Regions from separate parts of the Homo sapiens genome. Here all the other regions are linked to region 1. Evidence: fine-mapped expression QTL. A gene starts in region 1. Each other region holds a variant in brackets. All regions are shown on one strand. Distances are from middle to middle.

Region 1 (4,220 bases):
TCACATCATTTGACAGCTTTCATTTAGGACAAAGGTGAAATAAACTTACTTAGTTTGGGGTTGTTGTTGTAACCTCTCCTTCTCTATCTGGCCATCAAAATAGGGAGTGAGCTGGATGCAGGATTTGGAAGACTAATATCATCCATCTTTTTCACAGATGTTTTCCACCCTAGCCTTTACAAGCAAGGATAAGTCTAGAAGGTCCATGAAGGCAACCAGAAATTCTTTCATATCTTTTCTAATATAAAAGCCTTTTTAACTAAACATGGTAAGACACTGATCTTGATCCATATGGGCTCCTAGTATCTATTTCTAGAGATCTGTTTTAGCACAAGGTACCACCCTCCTTGTACACAGGTGTCTTCCTGAAACATCTTTTTGGAGAAATAATAATCAAAAAAGTCTAAACTGCAAAATAGGGCAAAGGGAGAGACAAAATTTCATGCAATGACAAGATGCCAGATGCCTTTGGAAGGACTCTGGGGGACAGAAAATGAATGAATTCCTTCTCCTGGACAGAGAGACAGTTCTAGAAATATTTTCCTTCTATTGGAGATTGCAGTCTAGAGATCTGGCTTTGGATACCAGCTCTTCAGCCTGTTTAGAGATCCATTCCCCTAAAACAAGCCTGCGGAGTTGGTAAAATTTCTTAGGAGAAACTGGAAAATGCCAACACCACCACTTGAGCCCAGAGAAGCCCCTGATATTTGCTTTTCACATAACATGGATTTTGTGATCGCTTGCAAGTGAGTAACTGCAATTTTGGGAATTAACCAAAGGGCTGAGCTGCCCAGTCTTTTCATTGCCACTCAGGTTCTACGAAGCCCAAAAAGTTTTCTGGGAGATACTGGTCCAAGGACTCTGTGGACCTTTCCTTTGATGTGTGAGTATTCAAAGAATCCTTTTGCCCCCTGCAGCCCCTTCTGTCTCTTGCTAAAGACAATTGTCTTTAGTTATCACTGCGAGGGAGCTTTCCCCATGCCAGCTGGAATCTTGGGAGGCAGGACACGACTCCAGATCCTCGGGCTGAATAGGGAAGCCAATGCTATCCCTGCCCGCTGGAGTCTGGCGACTCCTGCCCTTGTCCCAAACCACACGTTTTCCCGCCTCCCGGGAAGCACCCAAATCTCTTCCACCCTTCCTTAGAGCTAGCCAGGGAGATTCCGCCTTCCAGGGACAAGGACCGATCGGAGCGGGCCCAGCATCTCCATGGCGACTCTGCAAACCTGGCGTTCAAGGCCGCGCGCGCTGGTCCTTGCCCCGCCCCAGGGCCCTGTCTTGGCTCATTCCTTCCGAGCCGGCACCACCTGCAAGCCCGCCTCGGGCCTGGGGCGCCGCGCTCCAGGCGCTGCTACCCCGGTGTCTGCTCACACTATGCCCAATCCCCTATTGTTTTGAAATCCCAAAAGTAACCTCAAGAGGATTTCTTCCTCACACTCTCAGGCCCCCAGCGCACCTTACCCTTTTTATCAAAATAAAACAACCCTCCACCTCTCGCATTTTCAAAGGATTAAGCAGCAATCTCCAGGAAAGAAAATCAATCCCCTCCCCACCATCCCATCCCCAGCCAAGCTACGGCTCCGCCACCACCTCCGAGGCCCGCCGCCGCCGCCTCTCTATCCGCATCCCGGATAGGGGCGCCACCACCCCGCGCGTGACCCCGCTTTCCCGCGGGTACAGATAAAAATCCCCTCACCCTTCCGTAGATGCCATGGTCTGGGGAACGCCCCCTCCTCTTCAGCACTATCCGGCAGCTGTGGGCGAGGGAGAAAGCGGACGCCGGGGTGAGCGCGAAGTGCGGCCGGGAGCGGTATTTAAGAGGAGCCTCTGCCCGCCCTTCCACCCGCCTCCGGGGTAAGCCCTTTAGCGCCTCAACGGGCGCAGGAGGCTCCTGCGGGCGCTAATCCGCGTCCCGGCTCTCCACGGCGCGCGACCCGCGCTCCCCTCCGCCCGCGGGGATGGCGCTTGGCGGGGAGCTCCGGGGGCTCCGAGGGTGGCTTCCCCGAGAGAGCGATGCGCCCAGGGCTGCAGGAGGGCGCACGCCGGCGATGCGCCCCTGCAGCCGCTGCCACCTGTGCTTTGCTGCGGGGCTCGCGGGCGCGGCGAGTGGCGGGAGCAGAGAGTGGTGGCAGAGGACGGTGAGCGTGCGTGCGCGTGTGCGGGTGTGTGCGCGCCTGGGGAGGCGGTGGAGGCCGCTGCGCTCTGGCTCGGCGCCGGCCAGGGAGGGATTGCAAGGTTTAGCCCCGCCGGAGCTGGGGATTTGCAGGCGATCCCTCTCTATTTTCGTCGAGAGCTGACATCACCCGCGCCGCCGCCTCGGGCAACTCCTTTAACCGCCGCCCCCCGCCCCCATCTCCAGTCGCGGTCCCTCCTCTGCCATCCCTCCCCCCAGCCTCTCGCCATAAATTAGCCAAATAAGAAAAGAGGCCCCGCCGCTCGTCCGGGAAGGCTTGGGCAGCCGGTGGCAGGAGCCCAGGATCTAAGGAGTAGCTATTGTTTCCCCTGAAGCCCGCGTGGCCCCAGGTCACCCCGTGCGGGGTGAAGCGCAGGCGACCGCGCGGAGACCCGGGATGCCCCTCCGTCTCCGCCTCCCTGGAGCAGCCCCTGGCGCTCCCTCCTCACTCCCCGGAGCACCCGCTTCAGCTCACACTCACCCCCAAACTCACAGGCAGGCACACCCACCCCATCCTCCCACGTCTGGGGGTCCCAGGTCCAGCGGAGTCGAGCGGCTGAAACACGCGGGTGGTGCAGCCTAAACGCGGCCCAGCTGCGCTCCCTCCCCCGCCGAAGCTCGAATAAATCTCTGGCCTTCAATTATTCAGCGAGATTAATATTAATGCAGCTCCCTGGGGGCGGCGGGCGGGGTGCAGGGGAGGCCGGGATTTTTTTTTTTTTTTTTTAGGCCGAGAGAGGTCGGCCTCGTGGGTGCCGGCTGAGAAGGCGCGGAGAGTTGGCCGAGGGGTGAGTGGCGGGGGACGGTTCTCCACCCACTCGGCGCTGCTCGCCGCCTGCTTCCGTGTCCCGGGGGCGGCGCACAGAGACAGATGGGCTTGTGCAAGGGAGAGTTCGAGCCTTCCGGACGCCTTTGCATAAAAATGACGAGACCTGTGCAGCTTTGATTATCTCTGGAATACTGCAGGAACCTAGGGTCCCACTACTTGCCGACCCTGTGAGCGCAGAGCAGGCAAAGCCTCACTTTCCTCGTCTAGGCAATGGAACCCAAAAGAACTCACTTGGAGGGCCACAGGAGAATTAAACAGACTCTCTTTTTCCCCGGGGTAGACGATCTTCGGATTTGCGCTGTGCTGGACCTTGTTAGACGATGGAACGCGACCGGCCACGTGCAAACTCTCTGAGTAGGTCCCGGGGATGGTGCCAGAGGAGCCGGAGTCCCAGCAGGACCGATTGGTAGTTAAATGCCAGGCGCTGATATCCGAAGGCTTGAGTTCTTCACCACCTTCTAGCTGAGTAACCTGGGGCAAATTCCTCCATCTCTCTCTTCATCCCACCTGTAAAATGGGACTATCTTCTCCCACTTCTCTGTGCTAAGAGAACTAAATGAAATGGAGAGGATATGTAAAACTCCTAAAGTGGCGTCTGGCACCCAGTAAACCCTCCAAAAATATTCAGTGCATTTTCAGAGTCCTTAGAAGATAGTTTATTGGACAAAATATCCAAGTATGAACAGACAGATGAGAAAAATAACAAGAAAAAGAGGGGAAAACACATTAATAAAATTTAAAAAATAAATCTCTGCTTACCTCCTTCCTTTACTCTCCTTTCCAAAATCTGAATCCAAACGTCATCTTCCATCCATGCCTTTCTCCATCTCTCCCCTCCCCCCTTCTCTCTCAATCCTGTCTGCACCATTAGAATAATCATGTCTGTACCTTATTCATCCTAGGTTCCTTCAGAACCACTCTAACTTTGCATTTTCTTTATTTAAAAAAAAATGCCATAAGCATCTCTTCGTCTTAGGGCATTTGACTTTGGGTACTCTTCTCTTCCGAAAAATTAGTTATTGTTTAACCTGGTAAATGTGTTTAAAAATAATTTGTAGATGAAGAGCTATCTTCTTTCACTTTGGTATTATGTTTGACACTCTCCTCTTAAGCCCCGTCAAGGGTAAGTGTGTGTCTTTGTATCTGAAGTTGTCACATATACAAACTTTACAGTCTAATTGTCTAACTTTACAAGTTAGGGTTTTCTATTTCCCTTTC
Region 2 (4,220 bases), 120 kb after region 1:
AGAGACATCTTGGGCAAGCTGGTTTTTTGTTTGTTTGTTTTTGTTTTTGTTTTGAGATGGAGTCTGGCCCTGTCGCCCATGCTGGAGTGCAGTGGCTTGATCTCAGCTCACTGCAACATCCACCTCCTGGGCTGAATTGATTCTTCTGCCTCAGCCTCCTGAGTAGCTGGGACTACAAGCGCATGCCACCACACCCAGCTAATTTTTGTATTTTTAGTAGAGACAGGGTTTCACCATGTTGCCCAGGCTGGTCTCGAATTCCTGACCTCAAGTGATCCACCCGCCTCAGCTTCCCAAAGTGCTGGGATTACAGGCATGAGCCACAACACCCAGCCCAGGCTGGCTTTTGTCTGTCCCTGCAGTCACACCACATAGAGTCACCCAGTCTGGTGACAACTTGCTGGCATCAGCATCAATGCACACTTCCAAGTCTCAGTGGCCTCAAGAAAATATCAGTGATATATGTAAGTTCCCTCAAACTCCCTGAGGTACCAAGAGAAGCAAGGCTAGAACTCAGATCTCCATCTTAGCTATCAACTCTGGGAAAATTAACCTTCATCTCTGGGCCTCAGCTTCCTCCTCTGTAAAGTGAAGTGTTAAGCTCTGTGATCTCTAAAGTCCACTAAGCTTCTAACTTCAGTGGGTTTATTCTACATAAAGCTGAGTTTCTCAGGTCTCTGACCTGTGGGTAGCAACTGGTCACCTATCACAGCCATTCCCACACTTCACTGCTCTTTCTCCCATAGGATCCTAGGGAACATCAACGCCCCCATGAGATCTCAGTCTCCTGTATCCCAGCATCCCTTGGAAGTGTCTCTCAGGTGCTCACAAACCAACAAGTCACCATTAGACACAATGCATCCAGTTGCAACCATTGGATTTTTCTCTTCTCCCACCTCACTCACCTATGTTGCCTGCATCTGAAGGCCCCCAGGAGTTGGCAATGCTTGCCTCCCAGCGGCCGTGGATGCCAGTCCTTCACAAGAATGCCAATGTCCACGGCAAGGGTGCTACCTACCACTGCTCCCACAGCTGCTCTAAGTGCCAGCAGGCCGCTCTGGTCCATTCAGAAGTGAGGAGATTGTCCCTCTCCCCTCAGCATCACATGGGGTCACCCAGACCTTCAAAAGGGCCTCCTTGTGCCCTCAAGAGTCACAGAGACTCTTGTGTAAACAGTTTCTCATTCTTTCCTTTAGGAGCCTCCTTTCCACTGGACTCAAATGCATGGCTGACTTCAAGGGCTCCTCCCCATCCCCTGGTTCCTCCGTGTTAAGGGTGGGAGAGCTGTCCTGCAAATCACCTCCTGATCTCCGCTAACCCCCCGTCACTGCTTCTGCAGACATGAATTCCATTTTAGGCTAAAGTTGAGACATCCCCACTGTCCCAAGCGATTCTCAGTATGCCAAACCCCAAGGCCAGGTAAAAAGAAAGAATTATCTTCTCCAATTCTTCCTCCCAATGTATTCTAGAAGCAGACCTGGGTCTCCAAAGAATGCCTGTGACAAAGAGTATTGCTGGTGATTTTTAAAATTCTGTACTGGCTGACAAAGAATAATCAAATTGATGAGGGAATAAAATAATATACAGTTAAAAAAATGCTTTCTAGTGGCCAATGTAGGGGGCCTGGAGGCAAAAATATAGGCTCAATGCTTAGTCTGGAAAATCTACCACTCTATTTTTAGAACCAAAGAAAAGAGGCTTGTATAAGGACAAGGCACAATAACAGCTATTTTTCTCCCTCTAGGAATGAGGATTAAAAAGTGGTTATTAAGAGTCTGGATCCAGGATTCTGAGTGAAGAAACCTGGAATCTAAGCATGACTCTATGATCCGTGCTCCCTGCCTGTAACCCAGAGAGCGCAAGTCAGACCACATACTCCTGTAAGGGAGACATCCATTCAATAATTGATGACTCAATTTCAACCAAGACAATGCATATGACCAGAAGCCCAGACCTAGGCTAAGGGAGCAGGGAAGGCTTCCTGGAGGAAGTGTTGCCAGAGCTGAATGTTAAAGGATGAAGAAGAATTGATGGGATATTAATAGATGGAGTGATACATTAGTGTTCCAGGCATGGGGGAAGCAACACTTGCAAAGGCAGGCTGGGCAGGAACGTGGTGTGTGTGGCAACTGAAAAAAGGCCAGTGTAAACCAAAGCCCAGAGATCAAAAGGAGTATTTTATGAGTGGAGGCTGATAAGTTAAGCAGTTCTCTGTTAAGGACTTTGTCTTTAACTTAAAGGGGGGTGGTCGCCAGCCTGCAAGACGGTGTCTCATAATTTTGGCCTCCTGGTTGTCACGAACCTTGCATGATCCCCTCCCACAGTGTACCAGGGTTGGTATGTGTGACCCATCACAGATGGGAGTAGTGACCGCACATCCCTCCCGAGATTAGTTTATGAAAGACACTGCTGCCTCCATCTGCACTCCCTCCTGGATCACGTGCCTTGCGGGAAGTCATGTCCTGAGCAGCCCTGAGGACAGGCTCCCAGGCAAGGAA[T/C]GAAAGCTTCCTGACAACAACCATCTGAGTAAGCTGCTGGAGAGAAAAAGCTGTTTTCCCTCTACCCATCTTAGATTCATTGGTTGGCTGGGCTCTGCAAATTAGACTGATAAAAGTCAGATAAACAAGAGAAAAACAAGCAGAATTGCATTAACATGTGCATGACACATACACATGGGAACACCCAGTGAGTAACACAAAGGGGTGGCTAGAACTTGGGCTTATATTGCATCTTAACAAAAGAACCATACAGTTTTAGAGAAGTGATAAGACAAAGGAAAAGGACTTTGAGCTTCTAGGGGTGGCAAATTATGGAAAGGCAAATACATGTGGGGGCTAATGGAAGAGAAGGACTCATTGGTAAGGTTTTTAATGAAGATTTCTCTGGTGCCCTCTCTGGGCTTATAAGGGTCTACTGTTGTCTCTAGTGACTAACTTCTGTCCTTCCTGGTAGGGAGAAGAGAGAGGGCACCTTTACAAACTTACATCGTGTTTCTGGCAAGTAGAGGGAGGGCAGATAACTCTTCTTGTATCTATCTGCTTTTCCTCCTTTGCCTTCAGCTCAAAATAATTCTTAAGCCAAAATGGCATATTTTGGGGTGGCATTTTCTGCTATCCTTCAGAGTCATCTTGGAAATGATGAAATCCAGCCCCAGTCAAGTCTTCAGAAACCACAGCCCCAGCTGGCATCTTGACCGCAACCTGATGAGAGAACCATAAACCCAAGCTGCCCCCAGATCCCTGACCCTCAGAAACCACGTGAGATAATACATGTTAGTTGTTTTAAGATGCCATATCTTAGGGTAATTTGTTATGCAGCAATAGGTAACTAATACGTAAGAGCAGCAACAGAATTAAACTTGCTAACTGTGACTTTGAACAAGTCACTTCACCTCTCTGGGCATCAGTTTCTCTCTTCACCTATAAACAGAGAGGAATAGGCTTGGGTAATAGAATGTTAGCCCAGGAAAGATTTTAGATATAATCTAAGAAGGCCACAAGTCCCTGAGGGCAGAAGAGTGGGCATGGATGGGGACCCAGAATGACCCAAGCTGCAAGGCAGCCGGGAGTGTAATAATAACAAAAGCCTAATATTTATTGGTCACTTACCCTGTGCTAGGCACAGTGCATGCATTATCTCATGTAATTCTCCCATCTAGCCTGAGTTAGGCACTGGATTGCCCCAATTTTACAGAAAGGAATGCGAGGCACAGAAACACTAAGTCAATGACAATCCCATCCTTCCATGCTTCTGAAAGTTGCAAATAAGTTGTTTGGGTCTAGAAGTAACTGCTACTAAATGCAAAGCAGAAATCACTTGCTCTTTTGCCATCCCCTTGGTTCCTCCCCAACACCACCCTCATCAGCATCCTCTAGAAAATCATCCCGACCAGATAATTATTAAAGTGGCCCCATTCTACCTCCTGGGTACAAATTCCAAATTTTCAACCCCACTCGGCCTGGGAGTTTGGAGGTGGGGGCCATAAATGGCAGTGGGATGTGGTGTTGATGGTAAAAGCCAAGCAGCAGCCACACAAGTGCCTTCCAATCATTCATTTCCTGACAAAACACTACAAAGATGGCCATTGAAAATTTCTCCAGACTCATTGGAATTTGGGGTCTTTGTTCCCATGTCTGGAAACACATCAACCTGCCAATTCTGGTAACAGAGTCTACGATGATGCTCTTGGCTTTCATTGTTTTTGGCAAAAGCACTGCTAA
Region 3 (4,000 bases), 39 kb before region 1:
AGACAGCAGTATTAGCTTGTGGCTGCATAGTAGACATCGTTCATCAAAAACAGAAGAAATACCAAGAAAAAATATTGATGCTAGCTGGTCTGAAGCAGTTTAAAATTGTCACAAACCTGCACTGATTTGTTAGCATCTTTATCTCTGAAAGCGCTCACCCTTATTCACATCAGCAATTTGTGTCTTTAGGAATAACTGAAAATTTTCATGAAAACTAAGAACCACCTAGTATAAGATTAAGAACCTTTCCAATGCATTGGAGACAAGAAGGACAGGGTGAAAAAATAAGTCTGCCTGTAACTGAAGCTCTCAATTGGATTGATAAGTCTTGTGCCTTGAACTTACTGCTCACAAAAGCAACAAGAGTGTGACAGGCAAGAGTGTCTCCAGACTAATATATAACCCGTGGTTCTCTTCAGTTAAGCTCTATGAATAGTTGTCTATAAGGATGCAGTTAAAGTTGGCAATACCTGGCCAGATTGGCAAGGATGCATAGCCAATGCGGCTAAATGTAGCTCATGGAAGGGGAAGGAGAAGATGGAGGGGTAAGTCTGAAGCTCCATTGTCTGTGAATTAAATGCATTAAAATTTGTGACACATGGCCAGGCGCAGTGACTCATGCCTGTAATCCCAGCACTTTGGGAGGCCGAGGGGGATGGATCACCTGAGGTCAGGAGTTCGAGACCAGCCTGGCCAACATGGAGAAACCCCATGTCTACTAAAAATACAAAAGTAGCCAGGCGTGGTGGTGACATGACTGTAATCCCAGCTACTCAGGAGGCTAAGGCAGGAGTATCGCTTGAAGCTGGGAGGTGGAGGTTGCAGTGAGACGAGATCATGCCATTGCACTCTAGCCTGGGCAACAAGAGCAAAACTCTGTCTCAAAAAAAAAGAAAAATTGTGACACAGAGGGCAGTGCCCGGCACATAGGAAGTCTATGTAAATGCCAGCCTTTGTTATTGCTGCTGCTACTGTTATTACTAATAAAATTTTTAGACTGCCCTGATTCACAAAACTATTGCAAATCCTTTGCCACATTTAGACAATGCAATTTCAATAGGCAATACAGACTTTTTTTTAAGCCAGACATAAAATCCTGGGTAAGCAAACTCCCACCCACAAAGAACATGGCACCTGTGCCTCGGACATATTCCTCGGGAGAGATCACCTAGCAATTTGGGAGCTTAGAAGCCTTTGCTTCAGGCTTGAGAACATGCCAAGGACTCTCCATGAGAATCAGTCTAGGGAGAGAGGAAGAGAGACATTTGATCGCCTTTCCCAGTGAAAAGCATATGTCCGGGGCACGCAGGCTTCCTCCACTCACTTATGGATGGAAACAATGCTAAGCACATTCTGTCCCAAGAACTTACTTATGCTTATCCTTAAGGCTTCACTTTTTAATTTAAATCCCAGGATCCTGCCATAAACCGGCCAATTGAAAGCTTGATCTGAGAACAACTTCTGGGCAATCAATTACTTACGTGGCGAATCCCAACAGCCAAAACAAATGTCATCCAGACATCCCCAGAGTTGGTTAGAAGCTATGGCCATTTTAAATTCTCCTTTCCATGATTATCACTAACAATATTTAATAAACTCCATTTAACCACCGACTGCAAAGACTTTACTTGCACGCTGATACCGGGTCAGGTTCATTATGTTAAGCAGACACCTGATTGTCCCAGGCAATCTATAAAAGGTCATACCTGTTATAATTCCCATGATTCTCATATTTTCATAATCCATCTGATTTTATCATTTAATCCCTCAGCCTGCTTTTGAAAAACCCAAGAGCTCACTGGTTTGATAAGACAATCAACATTAAGCAAGTTCCCAAACTGTAGATGCACAGCATGCAATGCCAATACCCTCAGCTCTGCAGTCCTGTGAAATGAAACACCTCCTTGACATAAGAACACCCTGATGCTCTGGGTGGTTCGACTCCACCTAAAGATTCCATGGAAAAGGCCTTGGCTTTTGCTTTGCTTCTGAAAAATAAGCCAGGTTGTAGCCCTGGTCATTGTGAGCACTAACCTTCTCCAAATGTGGTCCTTGGGCCTCTTCATGGATGCATATGTGCGAGTTATTCTAGGTGATCTCTTGTTAAAGAGTTTTATTTTAAATCCCAGCTAATCTGTGCGACTCCCTGGATTGGTCTGATCTCTCGATACATCTTAGTTCAGGTCTACAG[C/T]GAGCTGCAAAAAGACAGTGCAAACACTTTTGCTGTTTGTCTCCCTCTTTCCCTTTCTTCCAATCAATTCTGTTCCATCAGGAACCCCTCATCTCTTCTGCATAAAGAGGTATATAAATAAAAACAAAATAAATAAATAAAAGGGCTGCGTGAGTTGCTGATTCTCCCTATAGTGACAGCGCTAAGGCAGTTTAAAGAGGGGAGTGTGTGGGTGTCTGCACGGGCAGTGCCTCAGTGCTTCGCTGTTTGTTTTGAGTGCCTCTGGGTATTTTTAGAATCTGTAGGGAGAAGCTGAGCTGCACTGGATGACTGTTATGCTCCCAATGACACCCTGGGCTTAAAGAAACAGGATTCACAGTGACTGCTAAAGTTTCAGGCAATAGAAGACAACATCTGACAAAATTACACGTAGTGGGGATGGAGGTAGAAGAAAAGAGAAGGAAAAGAAAAGAAAACTCCTTGACAAACTAAGTTGGAGTGAAGTATTACAGAGCTCAGGTATAAGTTACTCAATTATGAGATTTTTTTAAGAGTTTGCAGTAGCCACATATATTTTCCTCCTTTCATCCCTTTGTTTCTTTTCTCTTATTTTCATCATTCGGGCAGCTTTTTGGGCAGCCACCTTTTCCATGTCATCCCATCGTGTGATTGTCATCACACGGTGATCCAGACTGGGCAATCAGAGCAATCCTTTCCTACAGTGGTCAGCCCAAGAATGGGTGTGGCTGAAGCCCAGCCAATGAGACTCTTCTCTGGGCCTCTTCCTAGAAGTATCAGAAAAGAGGCACTTTCCATTGCTGAAATCATTTTCTCTGAGGATGCTGTAAGTCTTGAGCTGCCAAACCCATCATTGCCTGAAAGGACAACAACCCAGAAGAAAACCCAACCAAAAGATGGGGAGAGTAGCAAAGTCTAGATAGCCTTTCAGCCCTCTGTCTGCTGTATCCAAAGCCTGCTGAATCCCTAGACATCCCAGTTACCTTACCCATAAAGATCACCCCTTCTTTCTCTTTGAGTTTGAGTCCCACCAAGAACAGCCCGAAAAATCTTCAATAGCTGTCAATTTTTAAAAACATCAGAGGGACACTGAAGTACAAGCCACAGCCTGTCCACTCATGCCTACCCTGCTGGTTCAGAGGACACCAGCCCCCTCAGCGAGGCCCCCAAACTGCTCTTGTTTGCCTCAGAAGACAGGCGGGAAATTCCAACCTGATCCTACTTTGTACTTCAGGAAAACAAAGGGGAGTACGTATTTCTTGTAAGTGTCATATTGCACCTTTTAATTTATTGTCTTTCCCAGAAACACACAACTATGATGATTTCATGTTCTGCAACAATGAGTACTGATCTCTTATCACATAGTCCCCTTCCACTGAGTGAAGTGACAATGAAGAAAATGATGATGAAATTGTAAAAATACAGTACCCTGCACAAAGCCAACAAACAGTAACTGTATCTGTACTTACATGATTGGTTAGATTCCCACAACAACCTTATGAAGCAGGTATGATAACATGCCCATTTTACAGATGAAGATACTGAGGCTTAGAAAAATGGAACAACTTGTGCAAGATGACACAGAAACTAAGAAATGAAATCAAACTCAGCTCCATGTTCCTACAAGGCCCGTGGTAACCACTCTGCATTGCTGTCTCTTCACTGAATCACCCACCACTTGTTGGACCTTTACTTACCATTTGTTTCATACTGTGCTTTCCCTGTGGTCCTTGTCAACCTGTCGATATTTTCACTATTACAGAGATTCTGTTAAACCTATTTTGTTTCTTCCTGATCCTCTTGTGTTTGATT
Region 4 (4,220 bases), 200 kb before region 1:
TTACACCTTACACGGTGTTTAGCAAACATTGCCTACTGGTTAACCATGGCTTCCATGTCATTGAATATTTCCTCCTCATATTGTAGTGCGTAATGCAATAGATGTACCCTAATTTATTTAACCAATCCTTTATTGCCTCCATTTTTGTTTTTTAATACAATGTAAGGTGGATAGGTGGATGCTCTTATACAGGAAAAAAATGTTCCTTTCAAAAGAAGCCTACATTTCCTTTTATATGTTTAATAATATTATACCAAAGGCATCTACAAGATTCAACAAGTCATCCTGTCCTTTTTTAGAAACATAGTTCTCCTGAAGGGACTTGAAAATCCTGACTGATGATAAAAGATTAAAGCAAGAAGGCTGTTGGACAAATACCTTCAGCAAATTGCTCTTCCAGAATTACCTGCCTATTGGCTGGACCTATTGGCCAGACCCCCCTGCAGCGCTGACTGTGGTGCTTGTTTCAACTAGGTCAATTATAAAGTGCATTTTTGTTTTTACAAAGTGTGTCTCTGAAGCTCACGCATGTCATTTAATTTACTCATACCAGAATGGCTGATCATCTTGGCATCCCTCTTGGCCTTGGCTTTGATTCTTGCAGTTTGCATTGCAGTCAACAGTCGAAGAAGGTAAGGGGCTGTCCTGGGGGCTTTCAACTTGGAAAGGGCATCATTTAAACCTGGGCTTTATATCCTTGCTGCTCAGAGCGTAGTCCCTGGAACCAGCAGCCTGGGTACCCTGGGAGTTTGTTGGAAATGCACAATCTCAGACCCAACCCCAGACCTCCTATGGCAGAGTCTGCATCTTAACAAGTTTCCAGGGATTCATGTGCATGGTGCAGCTTAAGACATCTTTCTCTGCCCCGGTTTTTAGAGACAGGAGACACCTGTGATTGTTTGGCTCATCACTTTTAGGTAGTGGTTGAATCCTTTGTGATTTTACATGTTTTTTAGGGTTAAACCTCATGCAGACTCTGTCTGATGAAAGTTATGAAGTATCTCACCAGGAAGGCACACAAAAGTATATACTCATTCATTGATTTGTTAAATATTTATTAAATACATTCACAATGCACAAATATCGTATAAAGATTCAGTGATTCATCATCCCCTGTAGCCTCTCTGAGGCCCAGGGAACCTTTAAGAACTTTTACCAGAAGGAAGTATTGGCCTTGTGCTTTTGTTTGTCGTTTGTTTTTTTATTGGCCTTGTGCTTTTGTTTGTTGTTTGGTTTTTGTAATGATATCATTTTCTATTTTCTGGGAACTGTAGTTGAAGAGATTCAGGTTATAGCATAAGAAGAGCACTGTTTCATCGTCTTCTTGCTGTTAGGAGGTCTATGAAGCAGAGAAGAACTTTCCTTTGGAAAACAACTAAATGAAGACAGTCACCTCGCTAGAACTGACACATGGGCTGTTTTTATATTCTTGAAGGCCACTCTCTCCCTACCTGAACCAAGACCTATAGGTTTACATGTTATTTACATTTTATATATAATATATATATATATATATACACATACATTATATATACACAATAGTAATTCTAGCAACAGAGGAAATGACCTTTAACAGGGGTATAAATCTAAATTTATAAAAGTATAAATCTAAATTTCTTACCCAAGACACTTTAAAGATACATTATTTTTCTCCAGGACGTAATTCATAGGAATATTAAGCCTTTTGTAAATGTCCCTTTAGATGGTTTCTCATAAGGTAAAAGAAACTTATTTCCAAGCAGGACCACCTTTATTGTGTCCCCAGATCACCTCACAGGGCAGAAAAATGCCCCTCAGTCTGGGAGAAGACCTAGAGAGAATTATGGACTCCTTACTGGTTTTTGGAAAGCAACCAACAGCTAATTCCAACACCATGGGCAGCCCATACAGTCTCTAATTATCTGAGAAAATCAAATGATGCTGTTACAATAATTACGCTGGTACAAGTTAATAAAAGTGCCATGTTACAGTCAAACAGCTATGTTGCTATCTATACCATTGAGGGCATAGTTTTAAAAAGTAGTTATGCTACCTGATTGTATAAGGAACAAAACTGAGAGAAAAAATCTAAAAGGCCGCCTATGATTGAATGGAAAGATTTTTTTTAGTTGAATTTAAATAATGTGACTTGGGGGAGCCTTTACAAAGAGTCTTTATACCTCCCTTCAGCTTCCTCATTTTCCCTTGGATTACTTTTGCTCAATTAAATATGAATTTCCTATTGTGTGCAATCAGCCCTTTATTGCCAAGCCCTAGAATGCACCACTTTTGCTCACATACACAGTCCATAAGCTTTGCACATGTCACCATAGAAACGCTGGCATGGATGCTGTCGACATTTAGGGAGACCTCGGAGAAGCATCTCAGCTGTCCCTAAGAGCAGCTGGAGTCCATACATTGGGGCTGGGTATCTCCCCCATCGTCTGTGTCTTGTCAGCAGCAGACAGCAGAGAAGGGGCCTCATTGCTGCCCTCTCCCTCCTCCCAAGACCAGCAGTCACCCTGGCAACCGGCAAAC[A/G]GGGACACACAGGGTCCGGCACAGCGAGTATCTCACCAGGAAAGTAGCTGCTTGGATGCCATAAATTACTATGTCCTGATTTGATAATTGAAAACAGATTTGCCACGCAGCTAAAAGGTGGTGAACAGCTGTACGGGCCCCTTAATGGGCTCTGTGATTCTAAAGCTGTCAACCCATTTCTAATCCCCTTCAAAGGCTGAGGCTTTTCTGCTTTGAGTGTCACATTTAAGAGAAAGAGATACAGAATCCTATTTTCATCAGAGAAAGTTTGGTTGAAAATGGGGCCTCCAATAGGTGTTCATTTATTCAGCAAACATCTTTTGAGTGGCTCCTGTGACTACCAGCCCTGGCAAGGAGAAAGAGAAGGTAAAAAACAAAAAGAGTACCACCCCTTTTCTAAAAGAATCTTGAGGTTTAGTGGCAGTATTGGCCTCTTGAATTTGAATTGGCTAATATTTATTGAGAACATTCCCTGTGCCAGACACTGTTATATAAATTATGGTTAAAAGACAAAAGTGGAAAATCATTAGTCTCTGAAGTTGACATACAAGGATGGGTCATGGGCTTGCATGATGAAGTGATCTGTGAGTCACGTTGTCTTAAAGATGCTGGGTTGGGGGTTCTATTACTTCTTTAGGTTTTTCCACCCCTGCCATCATCCAAAACAGCTTTCTTTGCTGTTCCTCATGTCACCTGACTCCTTGAGTTACAGCTCTCCAAGAGAAATCATATTTTATTCCCTTTTCATGAGAGCACATAATTATTTTAGGAGTCAGTTGGGTTGATAGATACTGCGTGAGGCTCCAGAGAAGATTTTCCTTTAAAGAATCTATCTGGGCCAGGTGCAGTGGCTCACTCCATGTGCAGTGGCTCACTTTGGGAGGCCGAGGCAGTGGATTAGTTGAGCCTAGGAGTTCAAGACCAGCCTGGGCAACATGGCGAAACCCCATCTCTACAAAAAACACAAAAATTAGCCGGGCATAGTGGCGCATGCCTGTGGTCTCAGCTGCTCGGGAGGTTGAGGTAGAAGAATCGCTTGAGCCCCGGGAGGTGGAGGCAGCAGTGAGCCATGATAGTGCCACTACAGCCTGGGCAACAGAGTGAGACCCTGTCTCAAACAAACAAGCAAACAAACAAACAAACAAAAACCTATCTTATTTGTCTAAAGAGGAGAAAAAAACATGAGAACTTTACTATGTTGCTTGTACATAAAAGCTGTTCATCAGCCTTCACTTTAATGGGAATAATCGTCTTTTCTATAAACCCCAGCAGGCAGTCACCCACACTCCAATCAGTAGGTCTTCTCTACGCATCGCCATAATTTAGAAATATTTTCCTTCTCTTATGCTACAGTCTAGCTCCTGCAATCTGAGCTCACCCAACCTCGTCCTGCTGTCTAGAACAGTGCTATGCAATAGAACTTTCTGTGATGATGGAAATATTCTATACCTCCACTGTCCAATATATAACTACTAGCCACAACTGAGCACTTGAACTATGGCTAGTTCAACTGAGGAAGTGAATTTTTAATTTCATTTCATTGTAATTAGTTTAAATTCAAATAGCCAAATGTGGCTGGTGGCTACCATATTGGATGGCACAGCTCTAAAACAGTGCAAAATAAATCCCTAAATATCGTTAAGGATTGTCAGGTAGAAGAGTCATGAGATCAGTTGCCAAGTTACCCACCTAAATCTTTTAAG

Alleles and levels. Alleles are on the strand shown, and positions count from the first base shown. SD is a standard deviation of normalised expression in the study named. Not every link is listed here.
For the expression in left ventricle of the gene that starts at base 2,305 in region 1, allele T in region 3 goes with a lower level than allele C (moderate effect, 0.42 SD a copy in GTEx).
With allele G in place of A in region 4, the expression in sun-exposed skin of the gene that starts at base 2,305 in region 1 is higher (large effect, 0.80 SD a copy in GTEx).

The links. PIP is the estimated chance that this variant, and not a neighbour inherited with it, causes the effect.
Region 2: its variant is fine-mapped to the expression of SLC1A2 in fibroblasts (GTEx, PIP 0.97).
Region 3: its variant is fine-mapped to the expression of SLC1A2 in left ventricle (GTEx, PIP above 0.99).
Region 4: its variant is fine-mapped to the expression of SLC1A2 in sun-exposed skin (GTEx, PIP above 0.99).

What each region holds. Positions count from the first base shown.
Region 1 is chr11:35,417,254-35,421,473 of GRCh38, forward strand. It overlaps SLC1A2 (solute carrier family 1 member 2), which reads right to left and starts at 2,305. Exons shown (of 11, transcript NM_004171.4): 1 at 1,697-2,305. The coding sequence starts at 1,713. It overlaps SLC1A2-AS2 (SLC1A2 antisense RNA 2), which reads left to right and starts at 1,804. Exons shown (of 2, transcript NR_186310.1): 1 at 1,804-1,854; 2 at 3,283-3,749. RefSeq lists an enhancer at 1,951-2,451.
Region 2 is chr11:35,537,539-35,541,758 of GRCh38, forward strand. No RefSeq gene overlaps it. Among named protein-coding and RNA genes, the nearest start is that of PAMR1, 14 kb to the left of the region's middle. The variant T/C (reference allele first, on the strand shown) is at 2,499.
Region 3 is chr11:35,378,347-35,382,346 of GRCh38, forward strand. The region is part of intron 1 of SLC1A2 (solute carrier family 1 member 2); the gene reads right to left. Among named protein-coding and RNA genes, the nearest start is that of SLC1A2-AS2, 39 kb to the right of the region's middle. The variant C/T (reference allele first, on the strand shown) is at 2,192.
Region 4 is chr11:35,221,101-35,225,320 of GRCh38, forward strand. It overlaps CD44 (CD44 molecule (IN blood group)), which reads left to right. Exons shown (of 18, transcript NM_000610.4): 17 at 554-632. Among named protein-coding and RNA genes, the nearest start is that of CD44-AS1, 8.2 kb to the left of the region's middle. The variant A/G (reference allele first, on the strand shown) is at 2,518.